4 linked regions of the Homo sapiens genome follow. The protein of the gene in region 3 purifies or fractionates together with the protein of the main gene of each other region. This does not show direct contact. Each region holds a gene or a part of one and is shown on either strand. Other genes may lie near its edges.

Region 1 (3,669 bases), on a different chromosome or scaffold from region 3:
ACCTGGGGGAGGAAGTCGGGTAAGTTGCATGGAGAAGGCAACCCTTGAACACTTGCAAGGAGCTAACAATACCTGCTTCTGGAGTATTTAAACGCCAGTGGGTATGCTAAATACTTTTACCTCAGACCACCTACTAACCTTACAAAGTAGTCCACTTTGCTCACCCAGTTTTACAGATTGATGAAACTGAAGCAGACAGATATTGTTAACCTATCAAAGGTCACCCTGCAAGTGTGTGATTATAGTCCAAGCAGCTTGTACTTGTTGCCTATTTGTTTTGCCTTTCCTGTGCATTTGCCAGGCAGATGAGAGTGGGGTAAGACATTGCAGAGAAAAAGTAAGAAAAGGCCGTCATGAAACAATTTCATTTTCAGACCTTATAAGCACGTTACAAGTACTGATATTTATGCTTAAGTTCACGGGAGTCCTGGCCAGAAATAAAGCTGGAAGGACAAGTGGGGGGCAGATTGTGAAGGATCCTTCAAGACCTGCTTCCTCTAGAGAATGGGAGACTACCCAAGATAACTAAACAGGGAAGTGATCAGGTTTTGTGTCTTAGAAAAGTGTTGCAGTGTTGATGCAAATGTGACTAGAAGGGTGACTTGGAACCTGGATTGAAGGGGTGGGAGATGGGAGAAAGGAATGCAGTCTGGCAGCAGCTACAGCAGTCCAGGTGGGAAAACCCAGAGCCTGAACTAAGGTTGTAACTAGAGGGGATAGGGTGGAAGAGCTGGATTAGAGATGTTGACAAGATAAAGTCAGTAGGACTTAAAGACTGACAAGTAAGGATTTTCCAAAAGTGAGAGCTGTGGAATGAATTGTCTTAAAATGTTGCAGTGAGTTCCTCCTCATCAATCCAAGTGCTCGATCAGAGGCTAGACCTTTAGTTAGCAGTCACGGGAAAATTCCCCATTCTCACGGGGATTTAGACTAGGTCTTAACCATACTTTACCAAGATTCCAGTAGCAAAGCACCCAAAAGTAATCGCAATAAAATTCCAATTTTTGTAGGCCGGGCATAGTGGCTCACACCTGTAATCCCAGCACTTTGGGAGGCCGAGGCAGGCGGACCACGACATCAAGAGTTCAAGAGCAGCCTGGCCAGCATGGTGAAACCCCGTCTCTACTAAAAATACAAAAAAATTAGCTGGGCATGGTGGCGCATGCCTATAATCCTAGCTACTCAGGCAGCTGAAGCAGGAGAATTGCTTGAACCCGGGAGGCAGAGGTTGCAGTGAGCCAAGATCATGCCACTACACTCCAGCCTGGGCGACAGAGCGACACTCTGCCTCAAAAAAAAAAAAAAACAAAAAAAAAAACAAGTTTTGTGAATTTAAGTTTCCCTAATGGATGGTACAGGTCAACATTTGCCATCTAATGACACTTACATTCCAGTTTTTTCCTTTTTTGAGTAACTGGGAAAAGGGTGGCATTACTGCTGGCTTCCTAAAATTGAAAAGTATACTAGGGTTTTTAAACCTGTGTAGAATACATGATATGGTAGCAAATGTGCTGTAGGAAGAAAAGCAATGAGGAACTACTGGCCTGACTAGGAGGCCTAGAAGTCCCTCCCAGGCTTGAGTTGTTCTGACTTGGCATGATTACATAGCTGCGGCAAGTGACGTTTCCTTCAAGCCTTGGTTCCCTCATCTGTAAAATAGGGAACTAATACCTACCTCACAGGATTGTAGTTAGAATTAAGGATGACTTCATTAAAGCACCTCTAGTGGTGGAAGATGTCCCATCCTATCCCCCACCCATAGCTGGGAGCTATGTTTGGCTCATTCTTCCTGACTCACTGGATTACACTGTGACTCAGTTCAATTTCACACATGCTGCTGCTAAATTAGGGTCTTGGTGAGCCTTTGGGAGGACAGCTCTGAGGAATGAATTGTAGCACTGCAGCCCTGCCTGAGGAACATGATAGAAACAGGTGGTAGGCCCAGCTCTTGCCTTCCACCTACTAAGCAGTTTTTCTGTGGTTAGCTGTGTGACATAAACTATCGGTGTATTAATTTGCTTTCACTAGATTCCCCCCCCCCCAACAACTTAGTCCAAGAACATACCTGAATTCTTTGCATTTCCTTGCCTTAGTTGCTTTTGTAGGGTGGACAGCAGGACTGCATGAGAATAGCTGTGCTTCTGGACCCTATGGTGAAAGCTCTAGTGAACTGCAATTAGGCCCAGGGTCCCGGAGGAAGAAGGGGAGAGAAAAAGGGGGGTAGTTTTCCAAAAGATAAGTAGGGGACAAAAAAGTCCACGGGGCCTATGAGCGGTGAGACTCCTGCCCTGATTGTGGCAAAGCACCTGGAGATGATAGAACTTCCTAGGGAAAAGGCTGCATGGAGTCCCCAGGGATGCTGGGCCCTGGTCACCAAGGCTCCCTGGGAAGGTCTCTTGTACCTGGGGCACACAGACCAACACTTCTGAATTTGCAAGCTTAAGAGCATGTATGAGCAGAACCTGTGCAGACCAAGGCTTAGAGGGCTCACCTCAATGTTTTGCACTGTGTGAGACCCCAGGACCTTTTCGTGATTCTGGAGAGGGGAACAAACCATAATAACAACAAACCAGGTAGCAGGATAGAGACTCATTCTCATCTATTTTGGTTAAAAGAAAATAAATGTATTTCTTCCACACCTGATTTTGTGATTGCAAATTCATAACTAATATCCCTCGTCAGCTCCGCTGACTCATCCCTGCCACAGGGAGGTTCACAGCAAGAGCACAGAAACTAGGGCCAGTGCCCGGTTGTGTGACCTTGAGTAAGTTCTTTTTCCCTTGAACAGGGAGAGAGACACAATGGATCAGAGTGTCTCTGCCAGTTCTAACTTGGGGATTCTAGTGGGTTGAACCGAACGGTAGTCCGTTTCCAAAAGAGGAAGCCAAGACCAGAGGGGGAGTGGTTCCTTCAAGTTTGCAGAACCAGTAAGTGGCAGAGCAGGACTCATATCTAGTTAGTGGTTCAGAGCATGGGCTCCGGAGCTAGACTGCCTGGATTTGAACCCTGGCTTTGCCACTTGCCTGTTGGGTGACTTTGGACAAGCTGCTTAAATTATGTCTCCATTTCCTAATCCACAGAACAAGTGTAATACTAGTTATCTGTTTCATGGAGTGATTGTGAGGATTAAATAAAGTTAATATAACACAAAGCACTTCGTAGTGCTGCCTCATAGTAAGTGTTAATGTTACCTATTATTAGTCTGATCCCAAGTCTAATGCAGTTGTCACCACCTAAACCTGCCTTTACAGAGCTGGCCTTTCTGAGAAACCCTGTGCCTCTGTAGATTCAACACTCCCATCTGTGCAGATGGCTAACAGCTAGGCTGAAAACAGAAACCTTAGGTTGGAAAGGGTCAGCTGGAGGGCTGAGGCCCATGGCCCCAAATCCTCCCCAGGAGAGAGAGTAGGTTCAGAAAGGAGAGAGCTATAAACAGAGCCTTCCTCCCTTGCCCTCAGATCCCAAAATAACACTTGTCTACCGCCATCCTGCCCAACTGGCAGAGTGGCAGGCTGAGTAAGGTGCCATTTAAAGATAACCTGGCCCTCACCATCTGCCCCACTGGCTGGGCTGGGCTCCTGAGGCCAGGCCTTGGCTGCCTGGGACTGCTGCTGCTCCCACAGCCACCCAGAGTGTGCCTGAGTAGGGGGCTGCTCACAGCTGCCATCC
Region 2 (7,034 bases), on a different chromosome or scaffold from region 3:
GACCCGCCTGGCTGCCATTCTCGCCAAACACTTTGCCGACGCACGCATTGTGGGCACTGGTGAGGGGCCCCTACAGAGGGTACAGGGGGAGGGGGATGGGATGGCACCTCTGGTCGGCTTTCTTCTATGAAAAATGTGGCCAGGTGGGCATGAAGTATGGGTCCAGGGCTCATGCCAAGCCCCTGCTGAGGCACGGTGTGTCCCCGCAGACATCCGAGACTCACTGATGCAGGCCCTGGCCAGCTACGTGTGCTACCCACACTCCCTGCGGGCTGTGGAGCGAATCCCCGAGGAGCAGTGAGTGGGGCCTGGGGGGCACACACCCTGGCCACAAGCACCATGCCCAGCCTCACCCCGTCTCTCCCCTCCTTGCCCTCACAGGCGTATCGCCATGGTGAGGAACCTCCTGGCGCCCTATGAGCAGCGGCCCTGGGCCCAGACCAACTGGATCCTGGTGCGGCTCTGGAGGGTAAGCCTGACTCGAGGGGAAGTGGCTGAGGCTGGCTGGAGGGAGAGGGTGCGCTGTCCCATTGACCTGGGCACTGACCCCCACCTCCACAGGGCTGTGGCTTCGGGTACCGCTATACACGGCTGCCACATCTGCTGAAAACCAAACTTGAGGACGCCAATTTGCCCAGCCTCCAGAGTGAGTATCTGGGTTGGGCGAGTCCTGGGCAAGGCAGGCGGGGGCGCTTACCTCCTACCCATGGGTTCTTTCAGACTCTCCACTTCTTCCAGCCCCTCTCTGGTTCCCCCATTGGGTCCCAGACTCCCTACGTGTCCCCTGGGGTTTCCACTTTCCCTGCTTCCTTCCAGCCCAAGGATACTCGGGATGGGACTCCCCCTCCCCAGCCTTGCCCACAGTCTTACCTACATGTGCCCTTTGGGCCTGGATGCTCTATGTGGGTCATGGTGAGAGGCGGCACCATGTTCCTGGCCTGCTACAGCTCATGCAGACTGAATACTCTGTCCCTTGCCCTTTAAGCTAGCTCCCTGACCTCCAGCCTTGTCCCAGCACCATGTCCTTCTGCTTCTTTTTTGCTATCTGCTGGTGGCAGACCCTGGCCTTGGCTTAGGCCTTGGACACCTGAGTCCACTGGGAGCACAGATTGGAGGTTGGCCAGGTCCCCAGAGGGTATTCACGAGAGTTCCTGGAGGAAGGGACATTTAGTTGGGAGCAGAGGCTGTGCCCTCTCTCCAGGGTCCAGCAAGGACTTTCCCCTAGGCCTGGCCCTTGCAGAGTGCCAGGTGTGCCACACACTGTCCTCACCCTTCATGGTGGCTCTTCTTGGCTCATGTAGTCTGTTTCTGCCCTTGTGGGCAGTGTTTTGGTCCAAAGGGTGTCCCCAGAGAGGCTGAGTGTCTTCTGCTAAGTCACACAGCAAGTCCTTGCCAATTGCCGTGGTCCTGCGTCCAGGGCGGAACTGAGCTGCAAGTGGAGAGCGGCAGTGGGGCCAGGCCTGTCCTGCTGCTGCGGGAACTATTGATTTGTATCAAGCTGGTGGGGAGGTGCGCCAGGCCCGTTGCAGCTGAGGGCTCCGGTTACTGCTGCCTGCCAGCCCAGACTTGGTGCCCACCACCTCGGCCATATGCCAAGGCCAGGCCAAGGGCAGCAGAGGACAGTAGAGGACAGCAGGTTTGCAGCAGGGCTTAGAGTAGGCTCTTGGAGGAGCTGGCCTTGGTGCCGGTGGGGAAGCATCTAAGCCGCCCTGTTTAGGTCTGACCCTATCTGAAGGGTGTGCGACCCAGAACTTGCTGAGGGTCAGGCTGTGGCTGTGTGGCTGCTCTGGACCTGGAGTGGATGGTGTGGTGTCAGGGCTGGACACAGCTGCAGCCTGGGGCTTGCCTAGTAGAAGGAGGGGACAGATTCTGTCCCAACTAACTCCAAGGCAGCTGTCCTCTGTCCCCTGCTTTCATGACCTGAGCATTCCTAGGGAGCCATCTTTCTGTCCTTATACCAAAGCCTCAATGGGCGAGGACAGAGGCAAACAGGCAGAGGCCACTGCAGTGGAGTCCCTGATGATGCCGCCTCCTGTCCCCCTGCAGAGCCCTGCCCTTCCACCCTGCTGCAGCAGCACATGGCGGACCTCCTACAGCAGGGTCCTGATGTGGCACCCAGCTTCCTCAACAGCGTCCTCAATCAGCTCAACTGGGCCTTCTCTGAATTCATTGGCATGATCCAAGAGGTGGGCTGTGGTGGGGCCTCGTGGGTTAGGGTGGTGCAAGGGATGAGGCCTGGTCCTGGGCTAGAGCCAGGTGCTGACCACTGCATGCCCACGTGTTGGTGGCTCAGATCCAGCAGGCTGCTGAGCGCCTGGAGCGGAACTTTGTGGACAGCCGGCAGCTCAAGGTATGTGCCACCTGCTTTGACCTCTCGGTCAGCCTGCTGCGTGTCTTGGAGATGACTATCACACTGGTGCCTGAGATATTCCTTGACTGGACCCGGCCTACCTCTGAGATGCTGCTGCGGCGTCTTGCACAGGTGTGGCCATCTGGGCAACAAGGGTGGGACCCTGGGGATGCCCCATTGATGACGCTCCCCATCCACCAATGGACTCCTGCTCCCCTCACAGCTGCTAAACCAGGTGCTGAACCGGGTGACAGCTGAGAGGAACCTGTTTGATCGTGTGGTCACCCTACGGCTGCCTGGTGAGGACCTAGATGCCCTGCACCCCAACACACTACAGGCCTCGGTTCCTCTGCTAGGAACAGTGAGGCCTGATTCCACATTCTGCCCCCGGACAGCCAGACTTGGTGCTCTGCAGTCTCGGCTCACCCTTCTGTAGAGAGGGCAGTGGGCAGGCCTGGAGCCCTTGAAGCAGGAGCATGTGGGTGGCTCATCTCTTTCCTCCCCTTCCCCTCAGGCCTAGAGAGCGTGGACCACTATCCCATTCTGGTGGCAGTGACGGGCATCCTGGTGCAGCTCCTGGTGCGTGGCCCAGCCTCAGAGTGAGTGTTGGGGACCGTGGGCCCCTGTGGGAGTTGGGTGTGTCTGGTGAGGAGGGGCTGGACAGGGCCTCCTGGTACTTCAGTTTCCTCATCTGGAAAATGGACCTCAGCATCAGGTTTTGAGGCAGAGGGAAGGTGGTGAGGTGTGAACGGCCTAAATAGGGGGCAGACGGAGCTGCTCTAAGTAGGAGAATCTGGGACCCCAGCAGGACAGGTGGCCCTGGCCCACAGAGCCACTGGCTTGTGGCCATGCCTCAGGCCAGGCATGGGAGGCAGGACTCCGGAGGGTGTGCCGTCCTGTGGTGGACAGGGCCAGGCCGCCAGGAGAGCTGAACACACGGAGGACCGCCATTGTCTGCAAAGGCTCTAGCAATAAGCATGTGCTACCTTTATTAAACTCTGGAGCAGCGAGGTCCAGGATGGCCATGGGGGCCCCCAGCTCGGCCCCCACACATGAAGGGCTCCCAGACCCCCCTTCCCTGCCCCCCTGCAGTGGGAGCAGTGAGATGCATATGAAGCCAGGGTACCGCCTCAGCCATTAGGCTGAGACCAGTGCCAGCCCTTAAGAGGCTCCTGCTCTCGAGGGACGTGGAGTTCCGGCTCGGCCCTCCCAGCTCGGCCATGCTCGCCAGGCTTTTCGGGCTTTTTACTGCTGAAAAGCAGGGGTGCAGGCCATGATCCCCTTCACTGTGTCTTGTGAGCCCACAGAATGGGCTCTGCCTTCAGAACAACGGGTGGATGCCCCAGGCCAGAGAGAGCAGGGCCTCTGGCTGGGGCTTAGGCCAGACCACCAGGAACCTCTTGAGGAGCCTTTCCTGCCTGGTGCCTGCCCACCGGACTCTGCGTGAAGTTGTGAAGCTTTCAGGAGGTTGGGTGTTGGTGGATGGAGGGAGTCCCATTTCACCAGAGGGCGGGCTTGTTTCCTCTTTCTGTCCTGGGGTGTGGGCGAGATCTTCCTTCAGAGCCGCCTTCTTTTCCCTGTGGGCCCACTCCCTCCCACCCCCTTGGGAAGGGGAGGTGGCCCTGCGTCAGCTCTTGAGCACCACTCCTCGAGAGCTGTCTCAGCCCCTGAGGGTGGACGGGAGGCTCTGCTACAGGGGTTCTTCCACAGGCTGTAGAAGAACACAGCCACTTCCACAGCTGTGCTGTGTTGAAAGCCACAGGGGCCTGGGTCTCTCAGCCTCACAGGGCATTTGGGCACTAGGAAGTCCGCGGGAAAGCAGGAACTAGCACACCTTGCAGGGCCTGGGGCCTTTGGGTCCTGTGCAGGGGCAGAGCAGAAGGCAGGTTGGGGACCACAACCCCTGTCTCTACCAGTGAGCGAGAAGGCCCATTGTGTTTCGAGGCCCATACAGGAAGCTGGGGGGCCAGGCACAGTGCTTCCCACCAGTATCTGCCAGTTCTCTGGACCGAAGCAGGGAGCAGGGCGAGCAGCAAGAGGGTGGGGGCCTGGGTGGGGGAGCCCTGGGCAGTCTAGGTTGTCATGGGACCCTCGGAGCCTATGGAGCTGGCGGACTCAGAGCCAGCCTTCAGCTGCAGGCCTCCAGGGTTGTAGAGATCGAATTCCTCAGCTACTGCCAGCTGCACGCGGCCATTGAGGCCCCTCCGGCCTGGCTCCAGAAAGACTACGTGCTTGTGGACGCTGGCCTTGCGGCTGGGTGCGTCTGGCGGTGTGGTGCTGAGTACTGAGGACTGTGCGCTCAGCTCTTGGAGCGGGCTGGGTGTTTGGGGCCAGCGGCGGCAGCGGCAGGCACGGCGGCAGCAGCGGCAGGGTGGGGCGAACAGGTAGAGCAGCACGAGCACAAGGCCCACGGCACAGCCCAGCAGTGTGGTGAAGCCTGTGTTGAAAGCCTCGGGCTCTGGGCGCGGAAAGTGCACGCTCACGTTGTACTCGTGCGTCTGGTTGTGGTGCAGGCGGGGCCCAGTGGCCAGGCACACGAAGAGTCCCGCATGCTGCTCCTGTACGTTGCCTATGGCCAAGCTGCCGTCGGCCAGCACCGCGATGCTGCCATCGCGGGATCCTGGCGCCCTGAGAAGCTCCTGCTGCGGCGAAACCCAGGCAATGCGCATGGCCGGGACGCTGGTGTTGCAGTAAAGCCTCAGGGACCGACCCACCAGCGCGTACAGGTGCTCTTCCGGCCGCTCTAGGCCAAGAGCTGGGGCCGACGAGCAGTTCTCAAAGACGCGGCTGTGCTGGAAGAAGCGCACGCGGGACGCGGGTACCTTGAAGGCCAAGCATACGTACTCGCGCGCAAAGTCGCGCACGGCGCTCAGGCCCCGCTGGTGCCAGCGCTGTAGCAGGTGGTAGAGGCGGCAGTCGCAAGGCAAAGGGTTGTTGTGCAAGTAGAGGCCGTTCTTGAGGAAGGCCGGCAGCGCGGCCAGCTCAGGTACGGAGATGTGTCCCAGCCGGTTGGAGGAGAGGTCCAGAGTAAGCAGGTGGGTGGCGCTCAGACCGTGCAGGTGGTCGAAGGAGAACGAGGCGAGTTCGTTGCAGCCCAGGTAGAGATGGCTGAGCGCGCGCAGGCCGTGGAAGGCATGCTCGTCCAAGTGCACCAAGCGGTTATTGAACAGAAGCAGCTTCTCCAGCGCCCCCAGCCCGTCGAGGTCGTGGCGGCCAAGCGCCCGCAACGTGTTAGATGATAGATCGAGCAGCCTCAGGCCGCTGGCGTTGACGAAGACGCCGCGACCCAGCGCATCTAGTTCGTTGTGGTCTAGGTGCAGGGCGCGCAGCTGGAAGAGGGGCGCCAACCAGCCGGGGCGCAGGCGCTGGAGCGCGTTGTGGCTCAGGTCGAGGTCCGCAGTAGCGGCAGGTAACTCGGCTGGCACGTCCTGCAGCCCTAGGCCAGTGCAGCTTAGCAGGTCGGCAGCGCAGATACATTTGTAGGGGCAGTTGTGGAGCGCACGGGGCGGGAAACCCTCGGAGTCCGGGGTGCCTAACCCAACGCGCAGCATGCAGAGCAGTGTCCCCAGCAGCACCAACCAGGTCATGGCGGCGACCACCAGGGACAGTACAGAGCAGCTCTGTGCAGGTTGCAGTTCCAGGACTCACCCTCTTCTGCTCTAGTGCGACATGGGTGGCACCGGATGGCCCTTGCCGAGGAGGCACGGCGGGTTCTTGCCAGCCGACGGCCCCTACTCTCCGGTTCCCAGGTTGTGAGGCGGTGCGGCACTCTTAGCCGCGCTCCCTTCGGCTTCGCTAGCCCTCTCCAAGCGAGTTCCTGATCGGCTCCTAAATACTCCCCCCAGGGGCGGGGCCCGGGCTCCTATTGGTTCCCGTTTGAGGAGGCGGGGCGGCTACATCCCTTTGTGCCCAATGGCCCCGCATGACCGCCAGATGGGGAGCAAGGCCAACCCCAAAGTCCCCGTCAGCCTTTGGCTGGCAGCTCTCCGCCGCTCGTTTTTCCTCGGGGAGTAAAAGGGGGAGTCTGGAAGAATGTCTCCAAGCTGCTGTTAGTGTTTATTTGAAGTGACTTTGAAGGACTGATAATATTATGGGGCAGGCAGACTCTCACTATCTTAAGGTGGTTCGCCTGAGCCTTCTTAAAGTGGTACCCCAGGCCGGGCGCGGTGGCTCACGCCTGTAATCCCAGCACTTTGGGAAGCCAAGGCAGGTGGATCACCTGAGGTCAGGAATTCGAGACCAGCCTGGCCAACCTGGTGAAACCCTGTCTCTACTAAAAATACAACAATTAGCCGGGCGTGGTGGTGGGCGTCTGCAATTCCAGCTACTCGGGAGGCTAAAGCAGGAGAATCACTTGAACCCGGGAGGTGGAGGTTGCAGTGAGCCGAGATCGTGCCATCGCACTCCAGCCTGGGCAACAGAGCGAGACTCGTCTCAAGAAAAAAAAAAAAAAAACAGGCTGTGTGGCACCTTACTAGAATACAGGACTTGGGGTTTGGGAAGCAGGGAGACGGAAAGGATGCAGGGGGGGTGATCATGTACGAGCCATGGCACTCCTCATTGGCAATCCCAAGAGAGACTTTTAGCCAGGCCCCAAGCCTTCTGACTGCCCTTGCACCCTCCCCTACCTAGGAGAGAGCAAGCCACATCAGTGCTCCTGGCAGATCCCTGCTTCCAGCTACGC
Region 3 (7,147 bases):
TTTCCAAGTTTACTAACATGAAAACTGGGAAGCTCTTTGATACCTGCACAACACTGCAGCTCCCATTATGACATTACAAAAAACATACAGGACCATACCCCAAATTGGCCATATAAACACAAAGTCAAACTAAATTACATTTAGAATGTCATTCAAAACTACCGTTTAAAAAATGTAATTTTAGCAAGTCAAAATTTCAATTTCAACTTGTTTTCTCAAGTAAACTTTTTGCGATAATATTCAAATTAGTTTGGAAATAACTTTTAGCAGACTCAGAATCAATAAGGATGTGATTTTAGGTTTCAGGATATAATCAAACTTCCAAAGTAGATGTCAAAAAAAAAACACCTTGAAGAAAATAGCAGTATTTTGGAAAGTGAATGTGAATCTCAATCAGCTGGCTTAAACAATTCCAATAATTCCAGTCGTTTTACTACAACAGTCCAATTAATTTAAACTTGAGATAATGTGGAGCCAACTGTATTAACCAACGCTACAGATATGCCAATGAAAAGTCGTTTACAAAGGATCACAATTCTGAATAAGTGTGCTTTAAAGGGGAGGAACATGGTATAGTCCCCAATTGTTCACATACATGCCCAAGATTATTTTGACATTGAGATATAGTACTTTAATTCCCAAACCTAGCACTGTATTAATTCACTCCCTCGACTGAAATGTATTGCTGGTTAGCTCCTTAATGACCTTATTTTGAAATGGCTTTATTAGTTAAGTACAGAATCCATTTCAATTTCCAATGATACCATTTCACTAAAAGACAAATTCCAAAAATGTCAACCACCAGTAGCTCATTCTTGACATTGGCTGTTTCCTTTTTTTTTTCCCAAAGTAAAGCCTAACAATTAATCAACAAATGCCTTTTCAATCTAATTAAAACACAGTTTAGTAAGGTCATTAAATAAATTTATCTAAGAATTTCCGTAAAAACTCACTACAACTCTAAAACAGTATGTCCTTAAATTAGACCAAATATTTAATAGCAAAAATGGTAGCTTGCATATTCGAGGGTCACTCCATGGATTTAGAAAATATTTTTAAATGTGACAAAAAAAAAAAAACACTAAAGTCAGTTTCAAATGGAAGTCACCAAATACAGAGGTATATACTTCGGTTTTTTAAGCTACTGATAACGAGACATTTAAATCAAGCTATGGAAAGGCTTTGTCTAAAGGGTGATATTATTACTAAAGGCTCACACAGAAATCTTTGCATGCTACACACAAAGGAAACATTTACACTTCTAGTCCACAAAAGCCTATCCTAGGATTGTGCCAGGGGCACACAAGGATTTCAAAGTACAGAAAAAACTGGGCATACACATGCCCTACAAAGCAGCCAAAAGACATTCCCCAGTCTCTCTCAGGAAATGTTTCAAGATGAAAAGCAAAAGTCTGAAGTCCCTTGGAATCTTGGGTTGATTTCTTCATTATTCTCAAGGCTAGGTTGTTTTCCCCCAGCATACTTTGTTGGGCAAAAATAAAACATTTCCAAATAAAAGCAACTCCTCAGCCCCAATTTTCAATGCAATATGCTTATTAAAAGTTCAACATTTCTCAAGGTCTAGACTTATAGTGTGATCATATTACAGTACTCGGGAAGAGCATTTTCTTTGTTGTTGACCCTGCTAGGGAAACAGGTCTTGACTCAGCCAAAGTGGCGTTCTTGTGGGTGATTAATGACAGGCCTAGATCTCGCCCTAGTGACATCCATCCCCCACCCCCCACCCCCACTATACTAAAATCAGCCGTGTCTGAACTGAAGGAGGGGCTGTAGCCTCGCCTCAAACCACCCAGTCCCAGAGTTAATAGCTGCAACCAATCGATTACGGCAAGCACACATCCAGATTGGGGTGAAATGTGACCCTTTCGCCTAAATTTACGAATAATATCGTCCTCTCTGATCATTTCCGCTGGGGCTCCAGCGACTACGGAAACAATTCCAATCATTCGGCCCAAAGAAAAAGATGTCCCTGTTCTACCCAATACGGGCAAGGCAAAGCCCCTACCCACCTCCAAACACTATCCCCTTGACATCAGCCCATTTCTATTGTGTCTTATTAGGTCCTCGGGCTACGAGGACCTAGTGAAAAACGTGGCTGCCCTACTACTTTGCTAAGAACAAGAACCACACAGTCCGGCACCCCCACCCCAGGGGCCGCATCCCACACCCCAGGACCCCTGTTCCCAGTTCTCTCCACTACCCCGGCGGCCGCGGGGCCGGGTCCCACCTGTGGTGAGGCGGGAGGAGACGTCGCCGAAGGGGGATGGCTCCATTCGGAGATACTTCTGCGGCGAGGCGGCCGCAGCGGAGAAGGAGGCGGCGGTGGCCGCGGCCGCCGACAACGGGGAGGCAGCGGCCGAGGTGGGCGCCGACAATGGCGCACATCGCCTGCGCTTCGGGGACGCCGGGCTCAACAGCGGGTCGAAATCCAGAGTCCTTTTCAGAGTGGCTCCGCACGCCATGGCCGGGGGCAGCTGAGGCGCCGGGCTCGGGTGGGGTCGGGGACGGGTGACGAAAGAAGAGGGTGAGGGAAGGGGTGAAGAGCGGGAACTCGAGGAGAGCCTACCCGACGGGCTCAGGAGCCAAGCGGGTCGCGGAGCGCCGGCTGTGGAAAGGAGAGCCGCTGCCGCCGCTGCCTCCGCGGCAGGGGCAGTGGCCAGGGACGGCCCGGGTGAGAGCGGGAGGGGCGGTGGCGGGCAGAAGCACACGCCAGTCGCGTCAGGGGGGTTCTTCCGCCTCCTCAGGCGCGGCTCCCCCGAGAGAGGCTCCGGCCGCCCCCGCCGTCCGCTCGAGCTTTGCGCCGCGCCTGAGGCGCTTCTGTGCTGAGACTAGATCCTTTCTGAAGTCGAAAACAGCACCGTGGGGTGTGAGGCTGGAACGCGGCTCCTAATACGCCCGAGTACGGTCAGTAGCTTGCGAGCGGCGATCGATGCAGAGAGATTGCGAGGTAGCTGCCGCAGCAGGAACCCAAGCGAACACGTCCAACCGCTTCCCCTCCCTCGTAGAACTCTCCCACCCGCCGCCGGCCCCAATATGGCGTCAATAACAACGCCGCCGATTCAAATCCGGCGGCCTCAGAGCGCTTGCGCACGGGGGCGGGCCAAACCGGGGATGCATTTTGGGAGTTGTAGTTTTTAGGTACCGGGAGGAATCGGCTTGAAAGGCGGGAAGGGAGGAGTCACAGAAACTACGACTTCCGTCATGCAAGGCGCGCGATTCCGAGTTCCGGGTTGGAATTTAAATCCCCCTACACAGCTTGAGTGTAAGAGGAACTAAGCAAAAGAGAAAAAAAGAGAAGGTTCTGAGACAGTGGGAGATGGGAAAGCGAACCCGTGGCAAAAGCAGGCTAAGCGACATAGAAATCTTTTAAGATTCTCCGTATAGTTGCTCCCACAGTGATTTCAGATCTGGGAAATATAATAAACCAATCTCTAGTCAAAGTTAGCTTAATTTCGGTAGCGACAGTACCCAAAACAAGACCTTTCACATGGAGAGGATAGGAGATAATGAGATTATGAAACCTATTTAGGACTGGCAGACAGAACAACAGTAATAGTATCAGGTTACAGGATCCTTGATTCAACTCGATGCTCTACCCTTCGGAGGTAGCTGCTTCATCCACTAATGAAATTCTGTAAAGCCAGCTTTGCTTCTGTAAATGAATAGGACTTGAACGACTTACAGAATCAAATTGTTTTGCGTTGGGTAAAAAGCAAGTGGTATCAGACATTGCATTACTTCTGTTGAATATTGGTGCATATATTGTGAACTTTGTTACAAAACTAATCAAAAGACAGTGAAATGTTTAGGTAATAGATATTGGATGGATCCATTTTGTAAGCGGAAGGGGAAAAAAGTGTTTCTAGAAGTTGTACTTTTAGTCACATACCTAAAATAAGAATCAAATACAGCGCTAATTTAGAAAGTGATCTGTGTAGCCGGGCATGGTGACTCACGCCTGTTATCCCAGCACTTTGGGAGGCCGAGGCAGGCGGATCTTCCTGAGGTCAGGAGTTCGAGACCAGCCTGGTCAAAATGGTGAAACCCCGTCTCTACTAAAAATACAAAATTAGCCGAGCGTGGTGGCGCGCGCCTGTAGTCGCAGCTACTCGGGAGGCTAAGACAGGAGAATCATTTGAACCCGGGAGGCGAAGGTTGCAGTGAGCCGAGATGTTGCCACTGCACTCCAGCCTGGGTGATAGAGCGAGTCTCTGTCTGAAAAAAATGAAAAGAAAAGAAAATGATGCCGGGCGCGGTGGCTAACGCCTGTAATCCCAGCACTGGGAGGCCGAGGCAGGCGGATCACGAGGTCAGGAGTTCGAGACCAGCCTGTTCAACATGGTGATACCCTGTCTCTACTAAAAATAAAAAAAATTAGCCGGGCGTGGTGGCGCACACCTATAGTCCCAGCTACTCAGGAGGCTGAGGCAGAAGAATCGCTTGAACCCGGGAGGCGGAGGTTGCAGTGAGCCAAGATCAAGCTACTGCACTCCAGCCTGGGTGACAGAGCTAGACTTCGTCTCAAAAAAAAAAAAAAAAAAAAAAAGTGATATATGTAGAAACTATCACCAGTGCAATATGAAACAATTTTGTGAATGCCAACTGTCAAATGATTATAAATACTGATTTCCAGTGCTCATGTATTCTTCTTTATTCAGTAACAGATGTTTTATAGCCATTTTGTCTATTATTTTTAAACCATATTTAGAAGTAGTTCAATATATTCTTTTTTATAGACAATTTTATAGAATTGTCCAGTGCTTCAGAGATCAGCAGTCCTGATCACACTGTGTCAACAAGTAAGCCCTTCTAGTTTTAATTTAGGATATTTGGAAATATCCTACATTTCCTACATTTGGAAAATCTTTTGAAAAAGATAAGCATTTAATGAAACAGCAGCTTAACTAAGACACCTACTAGGTAAATTTCTAGTAAATTCTAAACACTTGGTAATATTTTCTGAAATTAAGATTTGCCCATAAGTTATAAAACCTACATTTGAAATGTGATGTTGTGAGTTAAATTCCCTATGTTTGAGGGAATTCAAGGACTTCAAAATTCATATGAAGTCCTAACCTCCAGTACCTTAGAATATGACTTTACTTAGGAATAGGATTATTTCAAATGTAATTAGCTAAATGTAGTAGGATGGGCCCCTAATCCAATATGACTGGTATTCTTATACAAAAAAGGAAATTTGGGCCAGGTGCGGTGGCTCACACCTGTAATCCCAGCACTTTGGAAGGCCGAGGTGGGAGGATCACTTGAGGCCAGGAGTTTGAGGCTAGCCTGGGCAATGATAAGAAACCTCATCTCTACAAAAATTTTTAAAAAATTAACTAGGCATGGTGGTGGTCACCTGTGGTCCCAGCTACTCGGGGCAGCTGAGGTGAGAGGATTGCATGAGCCCAGAAGGTTGAGGCTGCAGTAAGCTGTAATCACACCACCACACTCCGGCCAGGGTGTCATAGCCAGACCCTGTCTCAAAAAAAAAAAAAAAAAAAAGAAAAGAAAAAAAGGCCAGGGTGAAGGGGAGACTGGGTGGGGGTGGGAATTTGAACCCAGGCATGGGCCCAAGGGAATTTTGACCCACATGAACATGAACATGAAAATAGAGATTAGGGTGATGCTTCTACAAGCCAAGGAATGCCAAAGATTGCCAGCAAAACACCAGAAGCTAGGAGAGAAGTTGTTCTCCCTCAGTCCTCAGAAGGAACCAACCCTGAAAACACCTTCTCAGAGTTGTATTCTCTAGACCATGAGACAATAAATTTCTGTAGGTTAAGCCATCCAGTTTGTGGTACTTTGTTATGGCAACTGTAAGAAACTAATACAGAGAGGATTGTGGTTATCAGGCTATCATTTGAAATATACCAGAATGCCTAGAAAATGAGGAAAGTATTTTTTTGTTTAATTGTGGAGACAGAGGTCTAAGTTGCCGAGGATGGTCTCAAACTCCTGGCCTCAAGTGATCCTCCCACTAGCATTACAGGCTAGCATTACAGACTAGCATTACAGGCCGAGCCACTGCACCCAGTCAGCAAAGTGTTGTTGTACTTAAAGGTGGTGGGGGATATCTGGTAAACTTGATAGTTTAGTCATAATAGTTGCCTGTGTGGTCACCGCTGCACAGTATATTTGCAAAAGGCTGTCAAGATTAAACAGTGACAGGGCTGGGGTGCCTCCCCTTCTACCAATGACTCAGGAAGCTACTTCAGAAACTAAAAAGACAAGGGAGACCCTTCCCTATTCACCTATGTCTTTGCTTAGGCTCTCTGCTCCACACTTCTTGCCTGACTACTTATATTTTAAGACTCAAGCCAGGCATTAACTCCTCCAGGAAGCCCTCCGCAGTGTTTCAAAGCCAAGTTAGTTTTATAGCCTCACAGAGAAAGAGACACCTATCTGCATATTTTCATCATTATCCTCACCACACTGCAATAAAATTCTGTTCATGAATCTGCCTCTCCTGTCATTGTGTTAGCTCCTTACCAATAGTATAATACCTTGCACGCTTCAGTAAATGTCCACTGAATATTTCTTAAACATTTTTTATCACACTATCCCCAGTAGCCCACATTATCCTTGTTCCTTTATAGATCTGCTAAAATACTATAGCAACCCTTTTAGAGTAGAAGGAAGCTGTTGAAAAAAAAAAACCTACAAAAGTATTTATTAGGCTAAACTTGAAAATAAAGATAATACTTAAAAGCCGTAAGTCATGACATAGTATATTTTACTTTTATTTTTTAGAGACAGGGACTTGGTCTGTCACCCAGGCTGGGGTGCAGTGACACAATCAAGGCACACTGCTGCCTCGACCTCCTGGACTCAAGTGATCCTCCTGCCTCAGCCTCCCAAGTAGCTAGGACTACAACCTTGCACTACCATACCCAGCTAATTTTTAAATTTTTTGTAGAGACAGGGTCTCAGTACATTGCCCAGGTTGGTCTTGAACTCCAGGCCTGAAGCCATCCTCCCACCTCGGCTTCCCAAAGTGCTGGGATTACAAGTGTAAGCCACCACAATATATTTGAAAAATGAATTTATTTTGTTGATCAAGAAGAAAAAGACAGCAGACCTTAAGATGGGAGACGGGGGGAAGGAAGTACTAAAGAGGAAAAAG
Region 4 (7,003 bases), on a different chromosome or scaffold from region 3:
TGTTATTTCCAAATGTGTGAAATGTTAATAATATGACTTACCCCTGTCTAACTCACAAGTGAGAAAAACTAATGAATTCTATACATGTCCAATATTATGATACTCAGTGTTAGATAATGTAGTTCGGATTATACATGCTATAGGAATTCAGAAAAGAGAGAATTCTGTGTGGGCTGGAGTACTCCGAGTAACTTAAAAGCAATTCTACATAGGCCAAGAGAAAAGAGACATGAAATGCGGCATATAAGCAAACCAAAAGTTATACCACTTAATAAGGTGGCAATCCTCAGCAAATGTCTACTCTATAGTATCAAAATGTTTTTACAAAGTGACATACTGGACAATTGATTGGAAGTTGTATTATCATTTTATACTTGGAGAAAGGAGTCCCAGAAGGTTACTATTTTTTCAGCATTCTTGCCTACTCTAAACAAGCTCCATCGTGAAATGAATGATTAGAAAAAAGTCATCAGACGGCTGGGCACGGTGGCTCACGCCTGTAATCCCAGCACTTTGGGAGGCGGAGGCAGGTGGATCACCTGAGGTCAGGAGTTTGAGACCAGCCTGGCCAAACTGGTGAAACCCCGTTTCTACTAAAAATACAAAAATTAGCTGGGCATGGTGACGGGCGCCTGTAATCCCAGCTACTTGGAAGGCCGAGGCAGGAGAATCGCTTGAACCCAGGAGGTGGAGGTTGCAGTGAGCCGAGATCGCGCCATTGCACTCCAGCCTGGGTGACAGAGCGAGACTCTGTCTCAAAAATAAATAAATAAAATAAATAAAAAAGTCATCATACAATACTAAAATTTCTATTATAATTTGTTTTATACCAGAAAAGACTATAGGGAAAATTGGAATGTGCAGAGTGCAACTATTTCCAATTATTTTTCAAGAACTAACTCAAATTCATCTTTCTCCCATACCATAGTTATCTTTCTTTTATTACTCTTAGGATTTGCTCTTGAACTCATTAATTTAAAAACCAACCTACTACTAACTAGTAATACTTCTTTTATTATATAAAATCATCTTGCAGCATTTATTTCCTTGTTTTCTTAATGTCTTGGACTCTTCTATGGGTTATAAGTAATATACTGCATCCCCTATAATGACTAAAAGTACTGTGTACATAAGTAGGCTTAAAGCACATTCTACTTTTCAATGTGATTTCACATACATTTGGGATGAAACAAAAGACCTGTAAAGATAATGATTATTGTTCTACCTAGACATGACTTAATGTTAAAATCACTTGCTTGTCAAAGACCTTAGTATTCAAAATAATGGACAAATTTACTCTCAAAACAAATTCACTCCTTTGGAAGGACTGGCTTACAAACAAAACTTCTACAAACTAATCATAGAATTTCATAAAGTATAAGGTGCTATGTTAAGTGATTTACATTAATTCATTAACCTTTTGAGATAGGTGCTATTACATTACCACCTTATAGATGTTAGCTCTAGGGCACGGAGTTAGAGAAATTTGCTTAAGGTCACAAGTGGCAGAACCTGGGTTCAACCTATGCAGTGAGTCCAGACATTTTGCCCCTAAGTACTATAATATACTATACTATACTATACTATACTATACTATACTATACTATCTATACTAAATTACTCAATACATAATTTTAAGAAGATTTTGGTTGTTTTTCTGCAGAATCTAAGTTTGTTTTCCTTAACTGATCAAAGACGTGCTACTGTTGAAAAAGTATTAAGCTTTGGTTCAGATGACTTAATGGTCATTTGACAAATATGTTTGGGCACCTACGTACACTTAGTATTATTAAGTACCTGCCTAGTGCTAAGGATTTGCACATAACTCATTTACTAAATCCTCCCGACAAGTTTGTGAGTTTGGTATTGCTAATCTTAAAGATGAGGAAATCTGGGCACTGCAAAATAACTTATACAAACTCATAAGGCAAATAAATGACAGGGCTCCAATCTCTTAACTCCATTAACTACTTAAATATAAGGAAAACCTGGCAGCCATTGCTCTGGAAAACTGGAAAAGAAGAATCGGGAGCCACGGGAAGAAGGAAAATGCCAAGCTTCTGGTCCCACAGTCTCACTCTCCCCAGGATCCCACCTTATGCCGCCAACAAACTAACCTCATTACTAGCGACACCAGGAAACTTATCAGAGATTCGGGGATCTAGAGAGCCAGTCCCACAGTCTCACTCTCCTCAGGATCCCACCTTATGCCGCCAACAAACTAACCTCATTACTAGCGACACCAGGAAACTTATCAGAGATTCGGGGATCTAGAGAGCCAGGCTCTGGGCAGGCGCTTAAACATTTATAAACTGATTCCCTTTAGGCAACTCTCACCAAGCAAGAAGCATTTAGCGAAGGCCAGAGCAGAGCACTGACCCAGGAGCCCTGGAGGAGCAAATGCCAAGGTCCCAGACCTGTCTGCCTGTTTCGCCTGTAATCCCAGCACTTTGGAAGGCCGAGACGGGCGGATCTCCTGAGGTCGGGAGTTCGAGACCAGCCTGACCAATATGGAGAAATCCACATCTCTACTAATAATACAAAAATTAGCCAGGCGTGGTGGCGCATATCTGTTCCCAGCTACTCGGGAGGCTGAGGCACGAGAATCGCTTGAACCCGGGAGACAAAGACTGTGCTAAGCCGAGATCGCGCCATTGCACTCCGGCCTGGACAACAAGAGCGAAACCCCTCTCGAAAAAATAAATAAATAAATAAAATAAGTACGGGCAGGGCAGGCCGGCTTCCATCTCTCAGATCCTCCCTGGTACTTATTCAACCCCCGACAAACTCCTTCTGGCCGCTCCTACACCCCAGGCCTGGCCGGGCCTCCCCTGCTTCCTCTCACCGTCCTTCATCTGGACAATATTGCTGGCGGCCACCCGGTCGGAGGCGACAAGAACATAGTCGGGGCCTTGGATACCGATGAGGTACTCCATGGTGGCGGAAGGCCAGGGGCTGCAGGTCCGACACAGCACGAGACTCGCCCGCTTCCAGGTCTCACCGGTGAGACAGCACCTCAGAGCGAAGATTGGCGCGACGCCTGCAGCACGACTTCCACGGCGCTCTCGGATGACGTACAACTGTCGCGAGAGGTTGCAAAGCGGGCGCGGCGCCGGGTGCCTTATGTTCAGTGCTTGTCTCTGGGATCGTACGGGTCTCCTCCGGAGCAGGCTGTGCAGGTCACTTGCCTTATGTGACGCCCAGTTTCTCTGTTTACACACTAAGATTTTAAAAGTGGCTTTAGGATAAAATCACGCAGTGTATGTAAGGTGCCGAGCACGTGTGGGTGTCAAAAAGGGGTAGGTAGCCAGGCAGCCGTTTCCCTACGTTGCTCGGTAAAATCTCCCCAGAAACCCCTTTCCTGCAAGCCAGATTGGAGAAAAATTAACTTGAGGGGAGCCTTACTTCCATCCTTCACAAAAATAGTATATGGTTGGATTAAAGATATAAGCATGGCCGGGCGCAGTGGCTCACGCCTGTAATCCCAGCACTTTGGGAGGCCAAGGCAGGCGGATCACCTGAGCTTGGGAGTTCGAGACCAGCCTGACCAATATGGAGAAACCCCGTCTCTACTAAAAATACAAAATTAGCTGGGCGTGGTGGCGCATGCCTGTAATCCCAGCTACTCTGGAGGCTGAGACAGAGAATCGCTTGATCCCTGGAGGCGGAGGTTGCGGTGAGCACTCCAGCCTGGGCAACAAAAGCGAAACTCCGTCTCAAAAAAAAAAAAAAAAAAAAAAAAAAAAAAAAAAAAAAAAAAAAGAGAGGGAGAGAGATACAAACATGGAAGAAAAAGTAGAAAAATATTTCTGTAATTTTTGGAAGAGATGTGTTTCTAAGCTTGACAGGGAACCCAGAAGCAATATGAGAAAAGACTTGACAGATTTGACTACCTAAAATTACACGTCTCTATGTGGTGAAAGTCATTATCATGCTCAACAGTAAATGTAAATTGGGAATGTTTCAATTGTAGAAATAGTTACTATTTTGGACCTTATAGACAGAAGAAAGGAAAAAGTTAATATCTATAACTTAAAAGATATTCCTACAAACCAATGGGAGGGGAGCCGGGTGAGACAATACCATTTTTAAAAGACCCGGCAGGGCACGGGGGCGGATCAAGAGGTCGGGAGTTCGAGAACAGCCTGGCCAATATGGTGAAACCCCGTCCCTACTAAAAATACAAAAAATTAGTTGGGCGTGGTGGCAGGCGCCTGTACTACTCCGGAGGCTGAAGCAGGAGAATTGCTTGAACCTAGGAGGCGGAGATTGCAGTGAGCCGAGATAGCGCCCCTCCACTCCAGCCTGTGCAACAGAGAGACTCCATCTCAAAAAAAAAAATAAAAAATAAAAAAAGACCAAAGACTAAGAAAAACAATTCACAAAAGAAGCAACACGAATGGCCAATAAACATGAAAAGATCCTCAACCTTGATGGTAATTAGGAAAATGGGAAATAAGAAACAATGAGAAAGTATAAATTGGGGGTAAGGTTCTAAGTTGTACAACCTTTTTATAGAGAACAATTTTAATATCTGTTAAATATGCATAACCTTTTGAATATGTCCAAAAGAAATGTTTGGACACACAGTCCAAATATTTGTGTACCGAGATACTCAGTGTTGCCAGGGGCAGTGGCTCACGCCAGTAATCCTAGCACTTTGGGAGGCCAAGACGAGCGGATCACGAGTTCAGGAGTTCGAGACCAGCCTGGCCAACATGATGAAACCCCGTCTCTACTAAAAATACCAAAATTAGCTGGGCGTGGTGGTGCGGCACCTGTAATCCCAGCTACTGGGGAGGCCAAGGCAAGAGAATCGCTTGAACCCGGGAGGCAGAGGTTGCAGTGAGCCAAGATCACACCATTACACTCCAGCCTGGGCAACAGAGCAAGACTCTCTCTCAAAAAAAAAAAAAAAAGAGAGAGAGATATTTAGTGTTGCAGCACTACAACACAAAAGAGGACCAACTTACGTGTCTAAAAGTGGAGACATTGTTGGGCCGGGTGTGGTGGCTCATGCCTGTAATCCCATCACTTTGGAAGGCCAAGGTAGGTGGATCACGTGAGGTGAGGAGTTCGAGACCAGCCTGACCAACATGGTGAAACCCGGTCTCTACTAAATACAAAAAATTAGCCGGGCGAGGTGGCAGGCGCCTGTAATCCCAGCCACTTCAAGAGGTTGAGGCAGGAGAATCGCTTGAACCTGGGAGACAGAGGTTACAGTGAGCTGAGATCGTGCCACTGCACTCCAGCCTGGGCAACAAGGGCAAAACTCTGTCTCAAAAAAAAAAAAAATGTAGTACAGTCATAGTGGAATATTGTGCACCCATAAAAAGAATGAGATGAATCTAAATATACCTATATATTCCATGGCCCAAGATACATTAAGTGAAAGTAAAAATGCTTTTTTATATGTAGCCTGATGCCATTTTGTTTAACTATGAATATTTGAATATGAATGGAATACCTGTAAATACCTGTTTACAGGTATTCTAGTGTCAAATTATTTGCATTTATTACCCTGGTGAGTGTAATTTGAAGGGAGAACTTTCACTTTTTATTTTATACACATGGGTATTGTTTGAATGTTTTACAGTGCTCATGTACTATTTGTATTTTTTCTAATAGAAAAAAAAACAGCCATCCCTTTATATCTTGAAGCAATTCTGAAAAAAAGGTGAAATATTTCTTGATTGGGTTTCTGACATCCACAACTGAGTCTTCATACTAGCTTATTGAGAAATGGGAAACGAGTTGCAGTTGTATCTCCAAACACAACTATGCAATTCGTTTGTCTCTGCAGAAATTGTAATACTTTATTCTGAATGTTTCTTCCAGCTCCCTGCACATAAAGGAACACAGAGCCTGAGGAGTTTGAGGCAGCCTATCAATCATGGGATGGATGCCAGGGGCAAGTGAGGTCATTAAGTCAACCATCCACTATGAACACAGCTGCATCCATCACTCTAGAAAGATTGTTTTCTTAAATACCACTTGGAGGGGGGAGGTCTCTCTCTCTCTCTCTCTCATCCTCATTGTGTGTGTTTGTGTGTTTTTTTAATTGCAAAAAGTACATAGTTATACTATATATACACACATACACAAACAATATAGAAGAAACAAAGAGTTAAATACCTTTCCTTCCGCCAAAGGTAACCACCCACTGAATGTCTGTATCCTTCCAGACTTTTCCTTTGTACATACCAATATTCATTCATTCACAAACGCTGCAGATTTCTGAATTGGAAGATCCACAGTATTTTTATTATTATTTTTAAGGACTATCTTTTAAGCTGATTCATCCTTCTTTCTTTCCAGGCTTTTTTATTTTTATTTTTATTTTTTTGAGACAAAATCCTGGGTTCAAGTGATCCTCCTGCCTCAGCCTCCCAAGTAGCTGCACTACAGTCACATGACACCACACCCAGCTCTCCCTAGGACTTTTTGAAATCTGCTTTAGCTAAGTAGCACTAGAGCTGCCCTCATTTCTTGTTAGTATAGAAGAAAGTAGGTTTTCAAGACCTAGCTTGTGCTGTGTCACTCTCCTCCAACTAAAGTCTTAGAATAACTGAGTCTTAGAATTAGAAGTCTGTGGAGGTTCACAGAAGTAGCATAATGTAGCCAAAATATTTACAGATAGTAAATATTTTTGGCTTTGCAGGTCATACTTTCTCTGTAACAACTACTAACAACTAACAACTGCCATTACAGTGAGAAAGCAGCCATAGACAATACATAAACAAGAGAGCATGGCTGTGTTCCAATAAAACTTTGCTTAAAAAACAGGTAGGGGAAGGGGGAAGGTGGGCTTGGCTCATGGACTATAGTCTGCCTCCCTGATATAGTGGAAGGCCTGTAAGTCAACACCCAAGTGTGGTCCCAGCTTTACCTTTTTCAGCCTTGTTGCAAAATTCGTTTAGCCTTCCCGAGCCTCAATTTTCTTATTTATAAAAGAGGCATTCAGAAGAGAGGTTTGCTTTGTGTTTCCCTTGAGATGGGACAA

Evidence for each region.
Region 1: the proteins of AKIRIN2 (region 3) and IPO9 purify together in Homo sapiens (affinity purification with mass spectrometry; 4 studies listed by BioGRID and IntAct, with this or other methods). This does not show direct contact.
Region 2: the proteins of AKIRIN2 (region 3) and RNF123 purify together in Homo sapiens (co-immunoprecipitation; 3 studies listed by BioGRID and IntAct, with this or other methods). This does not show direct contact.
Region 4: the proteins of AKIRIN2 (region 3) and PSMB2 purify together in Homo sapiens (affinity purification with mass spectrometry; 3 studies listed by BioGRID and IntAct, with this or other methods). This does not show direct contact.

The regions. Positions count from the first base shown.
Region 1 is NC_000001.11:201,881,141-201,884,809, forward strand, and holds the end of IPO9 (importin-9), read left to right. Parts: 3' UTR 1-3,151; downstream 3,152-3,669. UniProt on the Homo sapiens protein: Nuclear transport receptor that mediates nuclear import of proteins, such as histones, proteasome and actin. Serves as receptor for nuclear localization signals (NLS) in cargo substrates.
Region 2 is NC_000003.12:49,713,529-49,720,562, forward strand, and holds part of RNF123 (E3 ubiquitin-protein ligase RNF123), read left to right. Parts: coding exon 1-59; intron 60-209; coding exon 210-297; intron 298-381; coding exon 382-469; intron 470-561; coding exon 562-646; intron 647-2,046; coding exon 2,047-2,186; intron 2,187-2,293; coding exon 2,294-2,482; intron 2,483-2,573; coding exon 2,574-2,649; intron 2,650-2,864; coding exon 2,865-2,949; intron 2,950-3,300; exon of another isoform or gene 3,301-4,422; coding exon of another isoform or gene 4,423-5,937; exon of another isoform or gene 5,938-6,156; intron 6,157-6,387; exon of another isoform or gene 6,388-6,982; coding exon 6,983-7,034. Other genes in the region: AMIGO3 (amphoterin-induced protein 3 precursor), read right to left, coding at 4,423-5,937. UniProt on the Homo sapiens protein: Catalytic subunit of the KPC complex that acts as E3 ubiquitin-protein ligase. Promotes the ubiquitination and proteasome-mediated degradation of CDKN1B which is the cyclin-dependent kinase inhibitor at the G0-G1 transition of the cell cycle.
Region 3 is NC_000006.12:87,699,202-87,706,348, forward strand, and holds the start of AKIRIN2 (akirin-2), read right to left. Parts: upstream 3,033-7,147; 5' UTR 2,484-3,032; coding exon 2,249-2,483; intron 1-2,248. UniProt on the Homo sapiens protein: Molecular adapter that acts as a bridge between a variety of multiprotein complexes, and which is involved in embryonic development, immunity, myogenesis and brain development.
Region 4 is NC_000001.11:35,638,497-35,645,499, forward strand, and holds the start of PSMB2 (proteasome subunit beta type-2), read right to left. Parts: upstream 3,031-7,003; 5' UTR 2,937-3,030; coding exon 2,846-2,936; intron 1-2,845. UniProt on the Homo sapiens protein: Non-catalytic component of the 20S core proteasome complex involved in the proteolytic degradation of most intracellular proteins. This complex plays numerous essential roles within the cell by associating with different regulatory particles.